Linked DNA regions of Homo sapiens: region 2 is linked to region 1. The links come from fine-mapping of genetic effects on gene expression. Tissue or cell type: non-classical monocytes. Region 1 holds a variant in brackets; the other region holds the start of a gene. All regions are shown on one strand. Distances are from middle to middle.

Region 1 (2,755 bases):
CCTATTCCAGAGAGTCTTCTCTGATCATTCCAAGGCTAGAAACTCTCCCAGCAATTTTTGGCTACACCGACTAGGGACAATCATACATATGGAAAACACTTTGTTAAATGGCATGCCAGGGCCAGCTTTCAGGCAGGACCCACGAGCAGGGCCAATTGTCCTGGCTGTGTACAGCTCTGGCCCTTGTTAAATACTTCACACATCAGCCATATTAAAGCTAGGGGTGTCCTCCTGGAATTCTCAAATAGAGTATAAACTTGTTGAGTAGAGAAATAATGCCTCTTAATTCCTTAACCCACAGCATTATCACAACCCAGATCAGAAAGCAGGCAGTAAGCACTGACTTGTAAGCTGACTGGTTTGTGACTGAGAAATTTCTCACCATTCTCAACAGTGGGAATGTCTTCATCTTTGCATCGAACTCCCTCAAACATTAGTAGACTCTTGATAATGTTTGCTGAATTGAGGTGAATATGCCCACTGGGGTTGGGGACTTCTTATAAAGGAACATTGATCTCTTGGCAACGTTTGCTTTGTTTCATGTGTGTAAACTCTGGTGAGTTTACAGAGGTTAGGCCTTAACTCATTTTCATTAAGCCGCAGCCCCTCAAAGATTATTCCAGCATGTCTGTCATCTCTCTGCTTCCCTCCATCTGATGGGAGCAGATTAATAAGTGATTTGGCTGTGTGCGTGAATGTTCAGCCTGTCTTACCAGAAAACTGGATTTTATACAGTTTTTCCCCTTCCCAGAGAGGCTTGCTTAGCAGAGACAGATTCCTGTGTTCCATGCCAGCCCCTCCAAAGAATGTGGGTTGAAGAGTCTCCAAAATGTCAGGGGCAAGAAACCCATGGATTAGGCCAGGCAGGGTGGCTCACACCTGTAATCCCAGCACTTTGGGAGGCCAAGGCAGGTGGATCACTTGAGGACAGGAGTTTGAGGCCAGCCTAGCCAGCATGTTGAAAACCTGTCTCTACTAAAAATACAAAAAGTTAGCCAAGTATGATGGCACATGCCTGTAGGCCCTGCTTGGGAGGCTGAGGCACGAGAATCGCTTGAACTTGGGAGGCAGAGGTTACAGTGAACCATGGTTGTGCCACTGCACTCTAACACAGGCAATAGAGTGAGACTCTGTCTCAAAAAAATAAATAAGAAAAAAAAGAAACCCATGATTGGTGATGGAAGGTCAGGTTTGCTTCCTTCTTGTGAACACAAAGAATGCCGGCTCTTTACCCATCAGTACATGACCTTTTGTCTAGTCTCATCCATGCTAGATTTTCTTCCTGACATGTAAATTTGCGGACAGGTAGGAAAAATGTAAGATGTTAGTGATTTCCTGGTGAGAACAGGAATAGGAATTGTAGCTCTCTGCCTAACGTAAAAATAGGATCTGCAGCCAGGTGTGGTGGTTCATGCCTGTAATCCCAGCACTTTGGGAGGCCAAGGCTGGTGGATCACGAGGTCAGGAGATCAAGACCATCCTAACTAATGCGGTGAAACCCCGTCTCTACTACAAATACAAAAACTTAGCTGGGCATGGTGGCACATGCCTGTAGTCCCAGCTACTCGGGAGGCTGAGGCAAGAGAATCGCTTGAACCCGGGAGGCGGAGGTTGCAGTGAGCCAAGATCATGTCACTGCACTCCAGCCTGGGTGACAGAGTGAGACTCCGTCTCCAAAAAAAAAAAAAAAAAAAAA[T/AAAT]AGCATCTGCAATGTGAATGGATAAACATCAAATTTGCTTATTAATTTTTAGCCACCAGGTACCCTGCTCTGTTCTCTCTCTCTTCTATCTAGTAGTTCATGGGAAATATTATTTGTTTCATTAAAAAGGTCCTTAAAGGCCAGATGCAGTGGCTCACACCTGTAATCCCAGCAATTTGAGAGGCCAAGATGGGTGGATCATGAGGTCAGGAGTTCAAGACCAGCCTGGCCAACATAGTGAAACTCCATCTCTACTAAAAATACAAAAATTAGCCAGGCATGGTGATGGGCACCTGTAATCCCAGGTACTTGGGAGGCTGAGGCAGGAGAATCGCTTGAACCCAGGAGGCAGAGGTTGCAGTGAGCCAAGATCATGCACTGCACTCCAGCCTGGGTGACACAGTGAGACTCTGCATTCAGGAAAAAAAAAAAAAAAAAAAAAAAAAAGTCATTGAAGAAGCTAGGAGAAAATAAGGTGAAGGTAGAATCAAGGGTTTAGCTCTGCAAAACTAACAGATCAAGAGTGTGTGTGTGTATATGTGTATGCAGAGAGAGAAGAGAAAGAAGAGAGAGACAGGGCAAGGCAGGAAAATCAGTCAGAGGGCTCCAGAAAGAGTCCACAGAACAAATGGCACCTGAAACCCTTCAATGACTGACCACTGCCTTCTGGATAAAGTCCAGACTCCGCATATGGCACTTCATGGCCTTTACGATCTATCCCCTCCCTGTCTTGAGTCATTTGCCCTCCTCACAACTCAACCTTCTAGCCAAGCCAAATTTATTTCACTCAAATCCAGGTCGTCAGGCATGCTATACCCTTCACCTACCTTTCCCGTCTCCCAGCCATCACCTCCCTTCAGTCCCTGCCGCTGGGGTTCTCTGCACCCTCTGTCTCTACAAGCCCCAGTGGCTGTTGCACCACCAGCTCACTGTCACATCATCACCTTCCCCCAAACTTCAGAGCCCACTTAGGACAGAGACTGAGCCTGGAATGTCACAGCATCCCTGGCACGTGGCCTGGAAGCTGCTTACACAGCAGGTGTGCATTTAACTCATGTG
Region 2 (2,755 bases), 42 kb after region 1:
CTCACGCCTGTAATCCCAGCACTTTGGGAGGTCGAGGTGGGCAGATCACCCGAGGTCAGGAATTCGAGACCAGCCTGGCCAACACGGTGAGACCCTCGTCTCTACTAAAAATACAAAATTAGGTGGGCGTGGTGGCGCATGCCTGTAATCCCAGCTACTCAGGAGGCAAGGCTGGAGAATCGCTTGAAACCGGGATGCTGAGGTTGCAGTGAGCTGAGATTGTGCCATTGCACTCCAGCCTGGGCGACCAGAGCGAAACTCCGCCTCAAAAACACAAACAACAACAAAAACAGAAAGAGAAGCAATGTCTCACTCCCACGTAATGCAAACCTCTGAGGATGCCAAATGCCCTAGCCCTACAACCCTGATCCAAGAGCAATGTACACAGGTAGCAGCACATTTCTTAACACCAATGCTACCCGTAAAGTACCTCTGGTGAGGATTAGCGGGAGGGTTTTTCCGCATAAAGACCTGCCACCTGAAGGTTAGACTCAGAACAGAGGAAGAAAACTGAGTCCTGAAGATAGAACGCAAAGGAAGTCTCTAACTTTAGAGTCCCTGGAGTCACAGCAGGCAGGCAGGCGCACCGCCGATACTGCCAAGAGGACCAGAGTTCGCAACTCCCCGCAGCAGTTCCGGAAGCTGGGGACGAAGCCAAGGAGAGAGGACGTGGGCAGGGCCGTGCGCGGACTTGTCCCGGCGCCTAGATCCCCGCCTTTGCCCGGGCGCACTGCGCGCGCGGCCCCCGCCGCTTTTGTCTTCTTCGCCCGACCGGGAACTTCCTCTGTCCCGCCCTCGGGCGCGCACACGGGAACTTGGGTAGGAAACGGAAAGCGTTTTGTGCATTTTTTTTTTAACAGAGTAAACTGACGCAGAAAATTCAGCATCTAACCTCCCCAGGACCCCCTATGGTCACCAGTTACCAACCTCCGGGCTGTCCCGGGCGGCGGCGACGGCAACGTTCACGCGCGCCGCGAGTTCCCAACACCCCTCTTTCGGCACTTCCGAGTCCCAGCGACATCGGCGGCGGCTGCGGGCTTCCCCGGGACGCCACCCTCTTTCCCCCGGAGCTGCCCTTTGGAGGAGCAGCGCAGCGCGCGTCCTCCGAGCACGCCCCTGCCGCCGTGCCCGCGCGCCCTCCGCGCCCGGACTCGGGAACCCGCGGCGCTCTCCGGGCGATGGCGAGCAGGCCGTGCTGCTGCAGGGGGCGGGCCAGAGCGCGGCCTGCGTTTCTGAACCGCGTTTGCCCCGCCGGCGGCCCGGGGCCCCTAGCCCCGCTCACCCCTCGGCTGTTGGTTCCCACTGACCCTGGCGTGCATATCTCTCCCCCACCCGTGTGTTCATTGCAGGTCTGGGGCTGCCTGCAAGTTAATTGCAGAGTGGAAGTCACCTGAAACTCGAGGTGGGCCGTCATTCCAACACCAGTGGTCCCCACCTACGTTTTGTAGGCGAAAGGAGGTAGTTCGGTGCGGTGGAAAGAGGGTGGGCTTTGCAGCCCTGGCAGCTTCGAGGGCTTACTGTGTGAACTTAGCCCCTGTGAGCCTCCCTGTACACCTCTGTAAAACAGAAATAGACTTCCCTGCTTTTCTTTGTAAATTAGAGTGAAGATCAAATAGAATAAACTTTATGAATTGTAAAGCAACTTACAGAGATCACTACTGCAAAATGGGTACGAAGATTTTGATTGCGTTGTGAAAAGAGTGGAAGATCTGAAGATGCTCCAACGGGGTATAATTGGGACGATGTTGCTGCTCGGAGGCCTCCAAGCCTGAGCCAAGAGACAGGCTTGCCAGAGTTCTCCAGACTTATCTCAGCAGAATCACGTGGCTCTCATTAAAACCTCGGGCTTCTGGATCCCTCCCCAAACCAAAAGCATCAGACTGTCCATGGCAGGGGCGTCTCAGGTGGTTCTATGATAAGGTGAAGGTGGATAACTCTGCCCTAGGCAGCAGGGAAACTCGGAAGCTGTGCTCTCAGAAATTTCATCTAGCAGTCATTGTAATGGTCGAGAGGATTATTTTAATGATTTTAGAATTCTCCAGGAAACCAGAGTATGAACTCTCCAAGAGCTGGAGCTATCTTTTCTTTCTGCTTCCCCCCAACCCACTCACCCCAAAACCTGGTACTGGATGGTGTTCAGTAAGCAGGTGTTAGTAAACTAGCCCCAAATAGGAGTGCCAGATTTAGCAAATAAAAATACAGCATACTCAATTAAAATTGAATTTCAGGCTGGGCGCGGTGGCCCACGCCTGTAATCTCAGCACTTTAGGAGCGGTAGCAGGAGGATCACTTGAGGCCAGGAGTTTGAGACCAGCCTGGCCAACATGGTGAGACCCCGTCTCTACTAAAAATACAAAAATTAGCCGGGTGTGGTGGCCTGCACCTGTAATCCCAGCCACTTGGGAGGCTGAGGCACGAGAATCGCTTGAACCCGGGCGGCAGAGGTTGCAGTGAGCTCAGATCGCACCACTGCACTCCAACCTGGGTGACTGAGCCGGACTCTGTCTCAAAAAAATAAGTAAATAATTTCAGGTGAACAATATGTAACTTTTTAGTATCACTATGACCCATGCAATATTTGGGATATACTTATTTTTTTTAAGTACTTACAGGAAGCTTGTAATCCCAGCACTTTGGGAGGTCGAGGTGAGTAGATAACTTGAATCCAGGAGTTCGAGACCAGCCTGGCCAACATGATGAAACTCCATCTCTACCAAAAAAAAAAAAAAAAAATGGTATATCTGAAATTCAAATT

The links. PIP is the estimated chance that this variant, and not a neighbour inherited with it, causes the effect.
Region 2: it holds the start of HHAT, and the variant in region 1 is fine-mapped to the expression of HHAT in non-classical monocytes (Schmiedel 2018, PIP 0.95).

The regions. Positions count from the first base shown.
Region 1 is chr1:210,369,552-210,372,306 of GRCh38, reverse strand. The region is part of intron 3 of HHAT (hedgehog acyltransferase); the gene reads right to left. Among named protein-coding and RNA genes, the nearest start is that of HHAT, 42 kb to the right of the region's middle. The variant T/AAAT (reference allele first, on the strand shown) is at 1,697.
Region 2 is chr1:210,327,277-210,330,031 of GRCh38, reverse strand. It overlaps HHAT (hedgehog acyltransferase), which reads right to left and starts at 1,130. Exons shown (of 12, transcript NM_018194.6): 1 at 928-1,130. RefSeq lists enhancers at 554-913, 1,788-1,957 and a silencer at 1,074-1,323.